3 linked regions of the Homo sapiens genome follow. The protein of the gene in region 3 interacts with the protein of the main gene of each other region in a biochemical or structural test. Each region holds a gene or a part of one and is shown on either strand. Other genes may lie near its edges.

Region 1 (7,139 bases), on a different chromosome or scaffold from region 3:
TGTCTGTTTACTCTGCTGATTATTTCTTTTGCTGTGCAGAAGCTTTTTAGTTTAATTAGGTCCCATTTATTTATTTTTGTTTTTGTTGCATTTGCTTTGGGATCTTAGTCATGAATTCTTTGCCTATGTCAATGTCTAGAAGAATTTTTCGAATGTTATCTTCTAGAATTTTTATGGTTTCAAGTTAGATTTCAGTCTTTGATCTATCTTGAGTTTATTTTATTATTATTATTCTTTTTGAGACGGAGTCTCGCTCTGTCACCAGGCGGGAGTGCAGTGGCGCGATCTCGGCTCACTGCAACCTTTGCCTCCCAGATTCAAGCAATTCTCCTGCCTCGGCCTCCTGAGTAGCTAGGACTACAGGCACGCACCACCATGCCCAGCTAATTTTTTGTATTTTTAGTAGAGACAGGGTTTCACCATGTTGGCCAGGATGGTCTCAATCTCTTGGGCTCATGACCCGCCCGCCTCAGCCTCCCAAAGTGCTGCGATTACAGGCATGAGCCACCGCACCTGGCCGAGTTTATTTTTGTGTAAGATGAGAGCTGAGGATCCAGTTTCATTATTCTACATGAATTATCACATTGATTTTTCCCGCAGCCTTTTCTGATAATGATCAAACAGAGGAAAAGCCTGGGATTTGATCCACATTGTTTTCCGGGCACATGGAGTTCTCTGATGCACCAGCCTCCACATCTGTGCTAAGGCCAGGTCTTACTTTGCTATAAGTACCTTTGTTTGGGGATCAAGATAATTGGCATGGAATTAACTATATATAACCTCACATGGGAAATCTATTAATCTGTGTTCTTCATTCTGCATGTTTTACTCATGAAATTAATTCATTGGATTATGACCAGCATTAAAAAACAAACAGATGAAAAACATTCATAGAATGGAATAGGAGTTATAGGGTGTATTTAAGGCAAATTGTTCTGTAATACCTCACATTCACCTGTGTGCAGGTATTTGTGTGCATGTGTACTTGGTTCCTATATGCTCACTTAGTAAATTTAGGAATATGCTCCTTCTAGGATCTGGTTCTTTTTTTTTTTGTATGGCTGCCACTCTGTAATTGAACCTGGTTCCACGACTCCCTTTAGAAGGGCCTCCTCCTCCTCTTCCAAAAGGACTCCTCTGCCCCTGTCTGGAGGAAGGTATCTGGCAATATATCTGGGCAAGATATTCAAAGAGCTGAGCTTGGAGCAATTGTAACCCAGGCTGAATTCTGATGACCTCTTCTAAACTTCCAGGTCAGTGCTCCTGGAGGCTCACCCACACAAACACATAGGCACACTAACAACACCTGGAAGACACACCAACCTCATGCAGAGGAAACCATACCCTCACTGGCCTGGCAGTGACACAGGGGCCTGGGCAGGCATAGCACAGAAGAGTCCTGGTGTAACTGAGATAAAGTATCTCAATTGTACAAATAATTATTTTCGGCTCGGTTGTCTCTAGCGTGCAGCTGGTGAGCCTTCACCATGGGCCCAGGAGAAGCGGATCATATGAACAAGGCCTGGGGATGGGACAGTTGAGCTGGGGCTGCAGGGGCTAAGGCTGTTTCCCATGGGGCTCAGCACTGGTGGACAGGTAAGCAGACAGGTTTGAAGATGCTGGCTCAGTTCACAGACATGGTCACAGAAAAAGCCTGGAAAACTATAGGGTTTTCTGCTGACCTCCCACACTCACCATGGACAGTCAGTACCCTGCACTGGCCCGTGTCGTACCCAAGCAGAGTGTGCTTGAAAATTGGATGTATATTAGTAGACCCCGTGCTCAGCGGGTACAGTTTAGAAAGGGAAGTTAACTTATCTGTCAATTAGTAAGTTAACAACACACAAAGTGTACTATGTTTTATTAATCAAACAAAAATATGTTTAACACCTGCTGGGCACAAGGAGTACAATGGTAAAGAGTTTAATGGAAATGTTTAATGGTTAATGCCAAGACCTGTGTATGTATTAATATGATGCCAATCATTTAATACCTGATGAAGCAATAGTTTCTGGGACTACTTGGGTTAGAAAATGGGCCTGCCACAGGCCCAAGCCCATCCCCTACCCTGCATGTGCTCCTGCTCCACTCCCTTGTGCATCTATCCGGTATAATGTTGTGGGGAAGGGGAGTGCTCGATTCCTCACCTTAACCAGCCTGCCAGCTATCCATGCAGAGACATGTGGGCAAAACTCCTAAGGCCAGACCTCCCCACTCCATTCTCCTGCTAGGCTGCTGAGGGACTCCATTCGAACCTGGTAATTACCCTGCCTCCTTCCCTCCAGATTCCATAGGTTACCTCTTCCTCTTTGCAGACTAACTAAAAGCCACCATATCTAAGTAGCATTTGATGAGAAGAAACTAGTTATTTATGTAAACCAAAATAATTAATGTTACAACGGAGAAACTTTATATAGCAGCCACAGATGAAGCCTGGCATGAGGAAGTCAATGATCAGTTGCTGCTCTCGCCATATGGTGGGTTATAAAATCTTCCCAAGACAAGTGAGGCACCGAGAAATTGAAGACTCATATACATTCCAGAGAACAGGGCCTCTCTCATCCATCTCCTCCATTAGGGCCTTTCTTCATATTTCATAGATAGACAGCTGGAGCCAGTTCTCTGCTTCCTGGGCCCTCTAAAAGGGCCAAAGACTTGGACAAATCCATTGTCCTGGGCACTCAGGAGGCAAGATTCTGTGTGTGCATGAGTGTACGAACATGTGTCATGTGAGAGAGTGTGTGGGCACTGGGCACACGAAGCATGAGGGTAGGTGAGTGAACATGTGTCAGCCTACATGAGTGTATATATATGTGCACAGAGTGTGTGAGCATGTGTGCATCAAACATAAGTTTGTGTGAACGTGGCACCACGAGTGAATTTGTGTGTTTGTGTGTGGGGTAAGTGAACATGTTGCAGCCTGAGTGAGCAAGTGTAGTGTGTGCAACAGGGATGTATGTATTCATGTTTACACATGTCAGCTTAAGTATGTTAGGGTGTGTGAACGTGTGTCAGTGTGAGTATGTGTGGGCCTGTGCACAGAATGCAAGTAAGTGTATGTGTGCATGCCGAGGGTGAGTGAGAGTGTGTGTGTGGGGGGGTAAGTAAACATGGCTGGGCATGGGTGAGTGTGCACACCAGGTATGAGTGGCTGTGTGCAGTGTTGTGTGTGTTCACAATGAGTGTGTGAAACAGACCTGCCAGGCCATGCTAGTGAGAGGTGACAGCATGCTGGCAGCCCTCGCAGCCCTCGCTGGCTCTCGGAGCCTCCTCAGCCTTGGCGCCCACTCTAGTGGCACTTGAGGAGCCCTTCAGCCCGCCGCTGCACTGTGGGAGCCCCTTTCTGGGCTGGCCAAGGCCGGAGCTGGCTCCCTCAGCTTGTGGGGAGGTGTGGAGGGAGAGGCACGGGCAGCAACTGGGGCTGCGGGCGTCGCTTGCGGGCCAGCACGAGTTCCGGGTGGGCGTGGGCTCAGCGGGCCCGCGCTCAGAGCAGCCATCCGGCCCCGATGGCCCCTGGCAGTGAGGGGCTTAGCACCTGGGCCAGCAGCTGCTGTGCTGGATTTCTCCCCGGCCTTAGCTGCCTCCCCGCAGGGCAGGGCTTGGGACCTGCAGCCCGCCATGCCTGAGCCTCTCTCCCCTGCCCCACTCCGTGGGCTCCTGCACAGCCCGAGCCTCCCCTATGAGCGCCGCTCCCTGCTCCACGGCGCCCAGTCCCATCCACTGCCCAAGGGCTGAAGAGTGCAGGCGCATGGCCGGGGACTGCCAGGCAGCTTCACCTGCGGCCTGGTGCAGGATCCACTGGGTGAAGCCAGCTGGGCTCCTGAGTCTGGTGGGGACTTGGACAACATTTATGTCTAGCTAAGGGATTGTAAATACACCAATCAGCACTCTGTATCTAGCTCAAGGTTTGTAAACACACCAATCAGCACCCTGTGTCTAGCTCAGGGTTTGCGAACACACCAATCGACCCTCTGTATCTAGCTAATCTAGTGGGGACATGGAGAACTTTTGTGTCTAGCTCAGGAATTGTAAATGCACCAATCAGCACCCTGTGTCTAGCTCAGGGTTTGTGGATGCACCAATCAGCACTCTGAGCCTAGCTAATCTGGTGGGGACTTGGAGAATCTTTATGTCTAGCTAAGGGATTGTGAATGCACCAATTGGCACTCTATATCTAGCTCAAGGTTTGTAAACACACCAATCAGCACCCTGTGTCTAGCTCAAGGTTTGCAAATGCACCAATCTATACTCTGTATCTAGCTAATCTAGTGGGGAGGTGGAGAACTTTTGTGTCTAGCTCAGGGATTGTAAACACACCAATCAGCACCCTGTCAAAATGGACCAATCAGCTCTCTGTAAAACAGACCAATCGGCTCTCTGTAAAATGGACCAATCAGCAGGATGTGGGTGGGCCAGATAAGAGAATAAAAGCAGGCTGCCCGAACCAGCAGTGGTAACCTGCTCAGGTCCCCTTCCATGCTGTGGAAGCTTTGTTTTTTTGCACTTTGCAGTAAATCTTGCTGCTGCTCATTCTTTGGGTCCACACTGCCTTTATGAGCTGTAACACTCACCGTGAAGGTCTGCAGCATCACTCCTGAAACCTGTGAAACAACGAACCCCCCGGGGAGAAACGAACAACTCCAGACTCGCCGCCTGAAGAGCTGTAACTCTCACTTCGAAGGTCTGCAGCTTCGCTCCTGAGTCAGTGAAACCACGAACCCACCGGAAGGAAGAAACTCTGAACACATCCAAACATCAGAAGGAACAAACTCCGGACACGCAGCCTTTAAGAATTGTAACACTCACCGCGAGGGTCCGTGGCTTCATTCTTGAAGTCAGTGAGACGAAGAACCCACCAATTCCGGTAGGAGTAGGAAATCACATCACCTTCTTTTAATCAGTCTCAAATACCTGGCCCCTTGTGGAACCTGCAAGAGCCAGGTTTGGCGAATGCAATGATAAGCAATTGTCTAATCACTGCCTTGAAAAAGAGCAGAGCATTTGAGTATGCTGTCTCCTCCTCTCCCTCACTTCAGTTGGGCCCAACATGACAGTCTTAATGGAAGCTCGGGGGTCAAAGGCTGGTGGCTTACTTCACGTATATTGCAGCATTTCAGTACTGCTCTGCACGTGTGCTCCCCCGCCTGATGAGGTAAGTGTTAAACAGGGATGATCACAGCTTCAAGTAAGCAATGGGAATTGGATGTTTTATGTCCTCTGGCGCCATCTTCAGCAGAGAAATATATAGGTCACTTTTACTTGTCTGGTTTTGGTCTTGAAATATGTACTGAAACTTGTGAAGGAGCAGACCTATATTAGGATAGAGTAAAAGAGGGAAAGACAAAAACCTCTTGGGCTTTTCAGGAGACTTGGTTCATTCTCTGCTTTTCAAGCCATCTCATGGCCACATGCCTGCTTTGGAGGCTGACTCGGAGGCACAACCGGCCTCAGGGCGTTCCTCAGGGACCCTACCTTTCTTGCTCCCTGAAGAAATGTGCACATTGCTTGAATAAAAACAATCAAAGAACACTCAGTCAAGATCGTCTGCTGCAGTCTTCGTTGAGGGCTGGGGATGCTAAAAGTCAGATGATTCATGTGTACCCTGTCCATCCTAACTCACCTGCTCTTCTACTTCCGCAGCTTACTCCAGTGCCCACAGATACGACAGAGTGTCCCAAGTGCCCCTCACACTCTATTAGCTGCATCCTTAACCTCTTTTTGCCACACCATAAGCATTGGGTTTTGTTTGTTTTGAGATGGAGTCTTGCTCTGTTGCCAGGCTGGAGTGCAATGGCGTGATCTCAGCTCACTGCAATATCTGCGTCCAGGGTTCAAGCGATTCCCCTGCCTCAGCCTCCTGTATTAGCTGGGACTACAGGCGCACACCACCACGCGCAGCTAATTTTTTTGTATTTTAGTAGAGAAGGTTTCACGATGTTGGCCAGGATGGTCTCAATCTCCTGACCTCGTGATCTGCTCGCCTCGGCCTTCCAAAGTGCTGGGATTACAGGCATGAGCCACGGCGCCTGGCCAGCATTGGGGTATTTTATTGAAGATGGAAGCCATGAATGTTGAGAAAGCCTCAGCAGATGGGAACTTGCCAGAGGTGATCTCTAACATCAAGGAGACTCTGAAGATAGTGTCCAGGACACCAGTTAACATCACTATGGCAGGGGACTCTGGCAATGGGATGTCCACCTTCATCAGTGCCCTTCGAAACACAGGACATGAGGGTAAGGCCTCACCTCCTACTGAGCTGGTAAAAGCTACCCAAAGATGTGCCTCCTATTTCTCTTCCCACTTTTCAAATGTGGTGTTGTGGGACCTGCCTGGCACAGGGTCTGCCACCACAACCCTGGAGAACTACCTGATGGAAATGCAGTTCAACCGGTATGACTTCATCATGGTTGCATCTGCACAATTCAGCATGAATCATGTGATGCTTGCCAAAACCGCTGAGGACATGGGAAAGAAGTTCTACATTGTCTGGACCAAGCTAGACATGGACCTCAGCACAGGTGCCCTCCCAGAAGTGCAGCTACTGCAGATCAGAGAAAATGTCCTGGAAAATCTCCAGAAGGAGCGGGTATGTGAATACTAATTCCTGTCTTCATTAAACATTTTCCATCTCCTCCTATTGATTCCTTTTCTCCTTTATTTCACTGGACTCATTGAAACACACCTGGTGCAGAAGGGTATCTTACAATTTTCGGGGGCATGTAGAGAGTGTGGTTGTGTTGTTCTTTGAGATCTTTTGAGTGTTGGGGCCAAGATTCCCAGGCAAGGCTGCTTGCTTCGAAGGTCCTTTCCCTTCACGGAACTCTCCACCAGGTGCTAAAAATGATCAGTGTCTTAAAATGGATGCAAGATTATATCATCAGGGTCCTAGCACTCTCAAACTGAGTCATAATGAGGGTATTTTCAAAGGTGTGGACAGGGTGCAGGGAGACCACCAAGACAAAATGTTAACCCCACGGTATAACCTCAAGGCAAGTAATGGTCGGGAGGAGCCCTCTCCAGGTTCGAACAGGCAAGTAGAGAGGCAGGTTGCTTGAATCTCAAGATGGAGTTTATCAGTAATAATAAAGACTTCTGGGCTTAAAAACACACAACTGAGATCTACAACAAAACCTCTAAAA
Region 2 (7,032 bases), on a different chromosome or scaffold from region 3:
CATTAACATCAACACAGACCTTAAGTCTGATAAGAAACAATTACCATCTAGTCTCTCTGAAGCCTGCTACCTGGAGGCTTCATCTTCATGATAAAACTTTGGTCTCCACAACTCCTTATGTAACCCAGACATTCCTTTCTATTGATAACAGCTCATTCAACCAATTGCCAATCAGAAAATTGTAAAATCTACCTATGACCCGGAAGCACCTCCCCGTCCCACTTTTAGTTGTCCTGCCTTTCCAGATTGAGCCAATGTAAATCTCACATGTATTGATTGATGTCTTACGTCTCCCTAAAATGTATAAAAGCAAGTTGTACCCCATCCACCTTGGGCCCATGTCATCAGGATCTCCTGAGTCTGTGTCACTGGCACATCCTTAACCTTGGCAAAATAAACTTTCTAAACTGATTGAAATCTGTCTCAGATACTTTTGGGTTCAAAACTCTCAGCTCCTGTCTTCTTCACATCTTCCATCATGTTGTCATTGATTTGTCATTTGCGTAATTCCTTGTTCAATGTTTATCTCCCCAACCCACCCTCTGCCATAAGCTAAGCTCCATGAAGTCATGTCTGTCTTATACCTCCATGTGTTTCTAGTGACCAGCACCTAGTGGACACTCAATATATGTTTCAAGAAAAGCCTAAGATAGGCTGGGCACGGAGGCTCACACCTGCAATCCCAGCACTTTGGGAGGCCAAGGCAGGCAGATCACAAGGTCAGGAGATCGAGATCATCCTGGCTAACATGGTGAAACCCCATCTCTACTAAAATTACAAAAAATTAGCTGGGCGTGGTGGCGGGCACCTGTAGTCCCAGCTACTCGGGAGGCTGAGGCAGGAGAATTGCTTGAACCCAGGAGGCAGAGGTTGCAGTGAGCCGAGATCACACCACTGCACTCCAGCCTGGGTGACAGAGCAAGACTCCGTCTCAAAAAAAAAAAAAAAAAAAAAAGGCCTAAGATGAAACATGGAGCCAAGACAAGGAAGTCATAAGGTGAACAATGGAAAGGAAAGATGTGTGTGTGGTCCAAAGGACACATCTCTTTCTCGCTAAACCAGTTTGATTTTTATTTTCTTTCACTTGAAGCTGAAAAGGTCCTGAATGAGACAATTCAGATATGAGACAATTTATCTTAAAGAAGTAATAGCAGCCCAATTGCCACTTCTCCCAAAGTTATAGTGCCAGGTTAAGCTATTTCTTCTGACTCCTTGACTCAGTTAACTGTGAAACAGTTGCCAAGGGGGCTTACCCAGCCTCTCTGTTGGTAACATTGGAGGATATATATATATATATATATATATATATATATATATATATTTTTTTTTTTTTTTGCCATAGGAAGGGAGCAAAATAAAATCTTCAGGACAAAGGAGACACAGCAGCTGACTATGAAAACAACACCCCAGTACATCTATGATCTGTGGCCAGACTTGCTAAGGACTCCCAAGGAAGCGGTAGCTTCTCAGACACCATCTGACAGTGGGTTGCTCATATCTTTCAGGTGAAGTGTACAAGCCACTCTAGTGTCCATGGAGCCAGTCATGGAACTGTCTTTGCAGAAATTGTAACAGGGAGAAAATGATGACGTCAGTGAAAGAGATTTGATCTAACCAACCCCCAGCTTGCCTTTAACCTCCAAACTGCCCTTACGCTTTCCTGGGCTCGGGCCAAGTTAACTTTGTGACAAATTTAGTGTTTATTTTATTTTATTTCATTTTATTTTGAGATGGAGTCTTGCTCTGTCACCCAGGCTGGAGTGCAGTGGCATGATCTCGGCTCACTGCAACCTCCGCCTCCCTGGTTCAAGTGATCCTCACATGCCAGCACACCCAACTAATTTTTGTATTTTTAGTACAGACAGGGTTTCACCATGTTGGCCAGGATGGTCTCGATCTCCCGATCTCGTGATCCACCCACCTCGGCCTCCCAAAGTGCTGGGAATACAGGGGTGAGCCACTGCGCCCGGCCTAGTGTACATTTTAAATGATAATAGCCCTTGCCCAAAACTAAACTACCTTCATAAAGCTAATGAGGGACCATGAGGTTAGGAGGATGAGAGGAGCCTGAATTCTGCTAAGGTGTAGACATAAAGGATTACCAGCCATTATTCCAGAGGTCACAAGATTTGCAACTTTCCCAATGACCCCCGCAGATAAGATCACTATTGTAGACTGGCCTTTTGAGATGTCTCTTCAGGTTTTTTTGCATTTCTCGTAACCAATGGCTCCACCCCGACCAGACCGCCAACCTAACTTTGAAAGAAATTTGTTGTATATTTTAAATTATGACAGCCCTTTCCCAAAACTAAACTGCCTTTGTAAAACTAATGAAATATTGCCAAGTTAGGAGAATGAAAGGAGCCTGAATTCTGCTAAGATGTAGACATGGATTATTATCAGCCTTTATCCCAGAGCTCACAACACTTCCAACTTCCTAAGTTACTCCTACAGATAACATCACTACTGTAGAACTTGAGATTGGCCTTTTGAGATGTCTTTTCAGGCTTTTGCCTTCCTGACAACCAGACTGCCCCACCTGGACCTGCCAACTAGTCCTGTGGCCCCACCCAGAAGTGGACTCAGTGCACGAGGACCATTTTTCACACCCCTATTACTGCATCCCCAACCAGTCAGCAGCACCCATTCCCTAGCCACCCTACTCCTTGCCAAACTATCTTTGAAAAGCCCTAGCTTCCAAATTTTCAGGGAGGCTGATTTGAGTCATAAAAAAACTCTGTTCTCCCATTTAGCTGGCTCTATGTGTGTAAAACTCTTTCCCTATTGCAATTCTCCCATCTTGATAAATCGGCTCTGTCTGGGCAGCAGGCACAAAGAAGCCACTGGGCAGTTACAGTCTCATCATGTAGTTTAGTAAATTGGCCCAGATGTAATAAAATAGGGAGTGGTGAGGACGGTGACAAATAGAAAATCCATGTCCTGTCTAAAGGGGGCATTAACTATTCAACTGTTCTCAATTGTTGCCTTCTAGCCCCAGATTTTTAAAATACTAGAACTAATTCCCTCCCTCCCTCCTTCTGTCCCTCCTTCCCTTCCTCCCTTCCTTCCTTCCTGCTTTCCGTCTTTCTTTCTTCTTTCTTTCTTCTTCCTTTCCCTTTCCCTTTTTCTTCCTTTCCTTCCTTCCTTCCTTCCTTCCTTCCTTCCTTCCTTCCTTCCTCCCTCCCTTCCTTCATTCCTTCTCTCTCTCTCTCTTTCTTTTTTATCACTCTGTCACCCAGGCTGGAGTGCAGTGGCTCAATCTCTGACCACCTTGCTCACTGCAACCTCTGCCTCCAGGGTTCAAGTGATCCTCCCATCTCAGCCTCCTGAGTAGCTGGAACTACAGGCACACACCACCATGCCCAGCTAATTTTTCATGTTTTTGATAGAGATGGGGTTTCACCATGTTGCCCAGACTGGTCTTAAACTCCTGAGCTCAAGTGATCTACCTGCCTCGGCCTCCCAGAGTGCTGGGATGACAGGTGTCAGACACGAGGCCTGGCCTCTTTCTTTTTTGTTTTTAGTACAAGGACCAAACAAAACATATCTGCAAGGCAGATCCAATCAACCAGACTTCACTTTGGGACTCTGTTTTAGTATTTCAATTTTTGGAGAAAAAGGAAAACATACTTGACCCCGCGTTTGATGGAGCAAGCTGTATGGTAGCTTTCAAGGCAAAATCTTACTTACCAGCCATCAACACTGGCTTTCTGAAGTTCAGAAATCCCAAAGGACAAAGATCCCATGAAGTCATTCCTGCTGGTCAAATCCCAATCCCAAATCTCTACTGACAGTCTTCTGTCTTTGTCCGATTCTTTCAGCTGACTGCATAGAGAAAAAGAAAAGACATCAGTGGAGGTTGTAGTAATTTCTCAAGCAGAATAAATGTACAAGAGGACAAGACCTGGAGGTAGAAAGTTTTAAAGATTACAAGCTGCTGAAAGAAACATATTCAGTTTCCATCCCAGGCTAGCTCTCCAGGGAGTGAGAGCTTTTTCTGTTTGACAGCCTGTGGCTTAAACAGGCAGAGGTCTTAGACTGGCTATGACAAGAACAGTTCTAACTACTTTTGTTATCTTATGTCTTAATAGGGTTCAGGATATTCAGGAATTCCTATTGCCTATAAGAAATACAGATATCAATTGCATAATTGGGTGTGTACATGTGTATATCTGCACACAGGTGGGTTGAGAATGAGGCTGAGGAAATGCATGGAGAAAAATCCTGGGGAAATTGTCTGTTCTGAGACATGTCCTTGACTGAGGCTGAGAAGGGGCCCAGCTTTGCCCTGAGAGAGGGAAGAGGAGACAGGACAAGGAACTGTGCTTCTAGCTGGTGGCTAAAAAAGTATGACCGCTAAAGTCAGACTGCCAGAAGCTGAATCCCACTCCACCCCATATTTGCTATGGGACTTTGGGCATACTCTTTAACCTCTATAAGCCCTATTGCTACATTGGGAATAAAATGAGCCGATGAAGTCGGATCGCTTAACCCAGTGTTTGTCACACATCATATATGCTCAGTGAATTGGCTGTTATAACCAACTCCTGATGCCTAGATGTACAAGAAAGAGACTCCCAGATTCTTGGAGCCCTGGCCAGGGAAGACCCTCAAGGGAGGCTGGTGGAGATGTCCCAGAAGGCTGCAGGCCAAGCATCATCCATAAACCCAACTCTAGAGAGGCTGTCACCACACCCTGTAGGTTATGTTCCCCTATTTGCTGAGCCCCATCATTTCTCCCACAACTTGCCTTCACTTAGCAACACATCACACCATTTCCTGTCCTACCCACTCCCCCACACCACAGGCATTCTCATCTCTATTAAAAAAATAGCTCTAATTTTTTTTCTTGGCTCACAATACAAAATTGCAGATGGAAAAGAAGGGAGGGAAAGATAGGAGTGAGGGATGGAGAAGACAGAAAAGGAGGGAGGTAGGGAAGGAAGGAAACAGGAGCTAAGGGAGGAGGAACTCCCTGATTTCAGGTGGCACATAACCCAACCTCCACCACCCATGCTCACTGCAGTCATTTCCACTTACAATCTAAATGTCTCATTCCACTCAGGGTTGAGGGAGCATTTGATGGTTTTGGTCTTCTGTTTGCTCTCACTTTTGGGATCGGGAATCAGTTTCAGTTTTACGTAGGGATCTGACAGGCCATTGGGGTCCATAGGTACAAGGTTTTTAGCATCTCTTACTGAAAAAGAAAAAGCAGTTTTTGCATTAATACTGTCCAACATGTTTAAGCACCAAGCAGTGACAGCTGCAGAACTTGTGGAAGGTTCTTTGGCATCACACTTGTTTAGTGAGAAATTTAATTTTATTAACATCCATAGCTGAAGCAGTGCACAAAATGAGATGGGCTGATAAGATGTCAACTCTGGTCTGTGTTGGTTAAAAATGGATTTCTGACTTTTACACTGCTCTTCCCATACCAAGATTAACTGTAAGTTTTCTAAGCTTATTTTCCACAAAGCCCACAGGAAAGGCTGGCTTCTTTCATTTAGCATAACGTTTTCAAAGTTCACCACATTATAGCATGTATCAGCACTTCATTTTTTTGCATGACTGAATAATATTCCATTGTATAGATATCCCACATTTTGTTTATCCATTCAGCAGTTGATGCATAGTTGGGTTGTTTCCACTTTTTGGCTGTTGTGAATACTGCTGCTATGAACATTTGTGTACCCCAACACAAAAGGTCACATATTGTATGATTCCATTTACATGAAACATCCCAAACAGGTAAATCCATAGAGACAGAAAGTAGACTACTATTAATAGTTGCCAGAGGCTGGAGGGAAAGGGAAATGGGGAGTGACTGCTTAATGAGTACAGGGTTTCTTTTAGAGGTGATGAAAATTTCTGAGAACTAGATAGAGATGATGGTTGTCCAACACTGTGAATATTCTATAAATGTCACTGAATTGTACGTTTAAAAACAGTTAATGGTTAATTTTATGTTACGTTAATTTTACCTCCATTCAAAAAGAAAAAGCTAAAGAAAGGAAGAATTACCCTCTAAACCAAGGTACACCTATTATCCATGTATCACCCATAACCAGCACCCAGACAGCCCATAGAGAGAAGGCTGGAACAATGTCAGCAGCATTAGAGCTCAGCTCCACCCTGACTCCAGAACACCCAGGTAAAGAGGCTATAAGGCTAACATGGTGAAACCCTGTCTCTACTAACAATACAAAAAAATTAGCCAGGCATGGTGGCAGGTGCCTGTGGTCCCACCTACTTGGGAGGCCCAGGCAGGAGAATGGCATGAACCCAGGAGGCAGAGCTTGCAGTGAGCCAAGATCATGCCACTGCACTCCAGCCTGGGCGACAGAGTGAGACTCCGTCAAAAAAAAAAGATGAACTTACAGGAGAAAAGGAGGCAGGGAATCAGCAGTGAAGATGCAACTGGCTATAGAAAGGATGAGGGAGACTAAATCATCAGCTTGGAGAAACAGGAAGTAGTTAATTAGGAATCAATTCAGAAACCAGTAATGCAGGTAGTCAATGGAAGCAGACTAGAAAATGAGAATTGCACAGCTCTTAAGGATACAATGTCAATCATCTCACTTACAGTAGAACAATCCACAGTAATACATTCAATCCAAATCGACTCTAACTATCTGCTAAAAGGTGAATACATAATGACTCCTATCAGGAATGCAAAGATGGTTCAATCTTAGGAAATCTATTTTCAATATATTCATCATATTTATAGATCAAAGAAGAAAACCATAAGATCATTGTAGTTATCTAGAAACAGCAGAGAATTTTAACAGGATAAAGGCTATCTGAAATAACAGCACCATGGTTCATGATAAATGCAATTCCATTAAAGTAAGGAATAAGACAAAGATATCCATTACCATAGCCATTATTTAATACTTTTTTTTCTCGTGTTCCATAAGTGCAGTAAGAAATAAAGAGTTACCCTCTAAACCAAGATGCACCTATTATCCATGTATCACCCATAACCTGCACCCAGACAGCCCATAGGGAAAAGGCTGGAAAAATATCCACAGC
Region 3 (5,427 bases):
CACTTCAGTCTGCCTGCCTCAGTTGGCTGAATAGGGCTATTCACCTTCATCCAAATTGAATCATTTACATACTTAAAAGAACTTTTCTTGGCCAGGCATGGTGACTCACGCCTGTAATCCCAACACTGTGGGAGGCCGAGGCAAGTGGATCACTTGAGGTCAGGAGTTCAAGACCAGCCTGGCCAACATGGTGAAACCCCGACTCTACTAAAAATAAAAAAATTTAGCCGGGTGTGGTGGTGGGTGCCTGTACCCAGCTATGTGGGAGGCTGAGGCAGGAGAATCACTTGAACCTAGAAGGCAGAGGTTGCAGTGAGCCGAGATCACACCACTACACTCCAACCTGGGCAACAGAGTGAGACTCCATCTCAGAAAAAAAAATAATAATAATAACTTTTATCTTATTAAATCTATTTCTAGTAGATGTTTTACACATCCTATTGGAGTTCTTAAACAATAGTGTATTAGTCTGTTTTCACACTGCTATAAAGAACTGCCTGAGACTGGGTCATTTATAAAGAAAAGAGGCTTAATAGATTCACAGTTCCACATGGCTGAGGAGGCCTCAGGAAACTTACAATCATGGCAGAAGGGGAAGCAGGCAAGTCTTACATGGCAGCAGATGAGAGAGAGAGTGTGTGTAAAGGAGGAATTGTCAAACACTTATAAAACCATCAGATCTCATGAGAACTAACTCACTATCCCAAGAACAGCATGGGGACAACTGCCCCCGTGATCCAATCACCTCCCGTCAGGTCCCTCCCTTGACACATGGGGATTATAATTCAAGATGAGATTTGGGTGGGGACATATAGCCAAACCATATCAAATAGCAATTAAAAAAAATCACATAAGAAAAGACACTCTTAATAAAATACAAATAGAAAATGAAAAAAAACCAACTCATAAACTTGGTTTAAATAATCCATTTGTATTGGGTCTTAGTAAGAATACTACTACTAGTAACTATTATCAAGCAACTACTGTGTCATGTACTTTTCACACATTCTTTTAATTAAAAACTCTCCACTAACCCTTACAGTTCAGTATTATCCTTGTTTTACAGATGAAGAAAAGCCAAAGAGAAGTTATATAACTGGCAAGTTTCTCTGGCTCCCCGCCTGCACCACTGCTCACCAGATTGCATGAAGAGGGAGGCAGCTGTAACACCTCATCCCGTTGATCTCCAGGGAACTCAGATACTTGTTTCCACGTCCAGGAAACCGCAAACTAAGCTCTTTGAAGCATCAGCAAACCTTGCTAAGTGACACGTGAATGCCATTTGGATACATATTCTAATCTTTCAAGTAGAAAGGACAGTCAGACTGCCTCATCTGTAACATCCAAGGGATCTGAGAACAGACATTCAGTCCAGGTGTTGAACATCAACATCATTATAGGAAAATGGTCAAAGAGAACAATGGCACACGTTAAGAGAACATATTAATAGGGCAAGATGTATAGTAAACTAAGTTTTCAAGAAGTATTTTATCATTTTTATGCTCTCTACTAAAAGCTGACCACTGTAGAGTGGATACACATTGCTACATACAGCAACTCTACAGTGGACAGCTTTTAGTAGTAAGCATAAAAATGGCTTTATGTTCTCATGTTCTCTGTGTAGCCATACCACACGTTGCTACACCAGGAACATGAGTACATATAACCATTACATATACATACCTGTATGTATGTATATTAGTTACATATACATATGTACAGTATATACATGTATATATATTGAACCCTTGGAAGGGATCAGCAAAGAGGAGGACTCAATAAAAAAAGACTAGAATAGAACTAGAAGAGAGAGAAGCCCAGGGAGAGCTTCAAGAAGAGTGCTCAACAGGGCCAAATGCGCAGAGGTCAAATAGAAGGTTAAGAAGTGCCCAGTGGATTTGGCAACCAGAGTCACTGGTAACCTTCAAAAGAACAATTTCAGTAGATTGTTAAGGGCAAAAGCCAGTTTACAGTAGGTTAAGGAGACAAAGGGAGATAAAAATTCCCAACATTCCATTCATTCATCTATCCCAGTGTGTACAGAGTGATTACTGTGTGTTTGTTGGCAGTTGACTCTAAAAAGAAGGCTAGAAATGAGGCTTTTTAATTTTTCCCAAGTACTATGAGCTCTGTTGGCCTACAAAATACTCAGTGCTGTGATTCACTCATTTGTGCTTTGCATATATAATATAGTACAAACTGCTAAAGATATTTTTAAAAAATATATTTTCACAGGGGTACAAGCGATCCATGATTATACCCACTATGTTTGTTTCTTCTCCACTCAAAGTTACTCATTCCCTGTAGCTGAAGATTGAGGACCTGATATCATTTGGACATTTCTGCTGGATCAAATGGTATCTTCTCAAAATGAAAGTCCTTCCACTTCGAGTACAGTGTCTGAACTCCAGTTGCAATATCCTCCACCACAAAACTTTCAATTTTTATAACTGGAATCTCAAATGTCTTGTACTTCACATGGATTCCCCAGTCATGGCTGCAGTTCTGTCGGGCACAGAATATCTTTGCTCTTTTTTCAAAACTTGAAAACTGCTTTGGCTTGGGATGTGGTCTACTCACAAAGCATTCCTTAAAAGCATCTCCAAGCACAGTGTAATGGCATTCCTACAGATGAAGGGATGGAATAACACACAAAAGAGAACGTTAGAACCAGTACATAATTGTGATTTAAAAAAAAAAAAAAGAAAACCCCACAATAATCTGAGGCAAAGAACAGGTGGGTCTCACTTATTTTACAATTGGAGGAAAAAAAAAAATAGATTCACCCAAAGTCCAGAGGATCCATGCACCTGACTCCCCTCTACAGGCAGGGTGGGGTTGCAAGTGAGGACACTGGGCACCTCATAAAGAAGAAGATTAAGAAGGTTCCAGGTAACCCAGCTTCTGAAGGTAGATACTCATTATTCAAAAACAGAAGCGATGTTTGCTGAAAATTTGTGAAGCTGAAGTTCACCAGTGGCCCTGGCAGGCACAATCCAAAGGATACAGGGAAAACGACCAAGGTCAAGATGCAATTGAAGAAGGTCAGGGACTAATGTGTCCACAGGCCCCACCTAGAGTCAACTTTAGAGTAAACAGCTCAGAAACAAATGCAGATCCAACATACTAGTCCCTCAGGAAAACATAGGGTCTAAAAGGGCCATTTTTAGTAGAACAATCACCCAAATTGGAGCTGAAAGGACCTTTTACAGCTAAAGAAGCAGACTTAGAAAGGTAAGGGAACTTAGCAATATGACTCCTAATAGGCTTTTTGCCCAAACAGCTGAGCTGATGAGAGATTTCTGCTTTCTGAAGACGAACGGAACATCCTGAAGTAATAACTCCTCATCTGAGCCAGCCCAGCCCCTCCACTGTGCCCCCCATGCAAGAGTTATACCCCATATTTCTCTTTGGAGATTTTTCTAACCCTTTCTCTGAAAGTTTTAAGAAAGAAATATAAGGCTGCAATAGAAGGCTAATCTGCAGATGTCACATTTTACAAATAAGGAGATATTTTGTTTTCATTATAAAAGTGATCCATAGCCCAAAAGGAATGTTTGGAAAACATAAGGTAGTAGGAAAAGAGAAAAAAAGTCATGGAATCTCACCACCAAAATATTAATACATTTTGGTATAGTTCCCCTAGCCTTTGTTTTTCTGTAGCAAGGTAGGTTTTTTGACTTTTTCTCTTGACAATGACAATGAATGTATTTGCTGCTGTTGTTTCACACAGCTACAAAGTAGCATCTTTACAATTCTGTGTTCTGGTTACTTTTTTCCTTATTACCATTAGTTTGTAAGCAGTTTTTCATTATACTACATAAACTTCATAATTTTTTAAAATAAACTTTACTTTGGAACAATTTTAGATTTAAAGAAAAATTGCAAAGATATCCCAGAAAATTTCTGCATACCCTTTACCCAGTTTCCCCAAATGTTAACATCTCATATACCACAGCACATTTGTCAAAACCAAGATAATTAACATCAGTACATTACTATTATCTAAACTACAGATTTTACCACTCTTTCTCTAGTTGTATCCTTTATCTGTTCCAGGAGCTAATCCAGGACACGTCATTGCATTTAGCATGACTTTTTTTTTTTTTTTTTTGAGACAGAGTCTTGCTCTGTCACCCAGGCTGGAGCGCAGTGGCGCGATATCAGCTCACCGCAACCTCTGCCTCCCGGTTCAAGCGATTCTCCTGCCTCAGCCTCCCGAGTAACTAAGATTACAGCCACCTGCCACTACGCCCAGCTAACTTTTTTATTTTTAGTAGAGACGGGGTTTCACCATGTTGGCCGGGCTGGTCTCGAACTCCTGACCTCGTGATCGCCCACCTTGGCCTCCCAAAGTGTTTTGATTACAGGCATGAGCCACTATGCCTGGCCAAAAACTATTTCTTTATTATTGAACATTTAGTATTTTTTTTTCACTTCTTAGCTTTTTTTAAATACACAGATCATGGCCACAGTAACAATGGAAATAATAGTAGTTTTATTATAAATATTTCACCAACAGTAAGCTGTAGCTAGTGCTAAAACATGACCAGGCACTTTGTAAAAAGGCAGCTTACCTCTATCACTCTTACGTCAGCTGTGTAACATGCCAAGGCTTTGCACTTTCTGCAGAGCAGTTTTTTATTTTCCTTATCAGGTACAGGTTTTGGTTTTTCTTGACTATCTCTGATGAATTTTTCATGAGTCTGTATATGCAGAATCTAATGCAAAAAGAAAGACCGCAAATGTAATTTGAGTACAACATATATAGCAAGAAACAGGCACAGATACGTACAATACATATACATGCACGCACATGTATAATCATTCATATACAACTTCCATGAACATATGGTACCTGACTTTGTAAAATCACAGATTTTATTGGTTCTCCTAACTTAGTATTAGTCAATGCTTAATTGTGGCCTCCAATTAGTCTTTCAATTTCTTCATCAAAAATGCTCATAAAAGCACTAAAGATGTCCATAGAATAGTCATATGAACTATGCTTTCTACTTTAGTGTTTGGCAAAACTTGGGAAAAAAAACAAAACCTGTACCAGATATACAATATGCGCTGTTTCAGGCATAATTATATCCATTTGCAGGCACAAACTCAGTGAGTGATACAACAGGCAGAAGAGCCCCTGATATGGTTTGGCTGTGTCCTCACCCAAATCTCAACTTGAATTGTATCTTAACAGAATTCCCACGTGTTATGGGAGGGACCCAGGGGGAGGTAATTGAATCATGGGGGGCCAGTCTTTCCTGTGCTATTCTTATGATAGTGATTGTGTCTCACAAGACCTGATGGGTTTATCAGCGTTTCCACTTTTGCTTCTTCCTCATTTTTCTCTTGCCGCTGCCATGTAAGAAGTGCCTTCTGCCTCCCTCCGTGATTCTGAGGCCTCCCCAGCCATGTGGAACT

The links. Proteins that work in one complex are often made in the same cells at the same time.
Region 1: the proteins of RIGI (region 3) and IRGM form a complex in vitro, tested with the Homo sapiens proteins (one study listed by BioGRID).
Region 2: of the proteins of RIGI (region 3) and PRKCB, one has a biochemical effect on the other in vitro, tested with the Homo sapiens proteins (one study listed by BioGRID).

Annotation. Positions count from the first base shown.
Region 1 is NC_000005.10:150,842,069-150,849,207, forward strand, and holds IRGM (immunity-related GTPase family M protein), read left to right. Parts: upstream 1-4,452; 5' UTR 4,453-5,152; intron 5,153-5,640; 5' UTR 5,641-6,055; coding exon 6,056-6,601; 3' UTR 6,602-6,634; downstream 6,635-7,139. UniProt on the Homo sapiens protein: Immunity-related GTPase that plays important roles in innate immunity and inflammatory response. Acts as a dynamin-like protein that binds to intracellular membranes and promotes remodeling and trafficking of those membranes.
Region 2 is NC_000016.10:24,090,956-24,097,987, reverse strand, and holds part of PRKCB (protein kinase C beta type), read right to left. Parts: intron 5,198-7,032; coding exon 5,041-5,197; intron 3,826-5,040; coding exon 3,691-3,825; intron 1-3,690. UniProt on the Homo sapiens protein: Calcium-activated, phospholipid- and diacylglycerol (DAG)-dependent serine/threonine-protein kinase involved in various cellular processes such as regulation of the B-cell receptor (BCR) signalosome, oxidative stress-induced apoptosis, androgen receptor-dependent transcription regulation, insulin signaling and endothelial cells proliferation.
Region 3 is NC_000009.12:32,454,794-32,460,220, forward strand, and holds the end of RIGI (antiviral innate immune response receptor RIG-I), read right to left. Parts: exon of another isoform or gene 4,722-5,427; coding exon 4,578-4,721; exon of another isoform or gene 4,249-4,577; intron 2,626-4,248; coding exon 2,329-2,625; 3' UTR 509-2,328; downstream 1-508.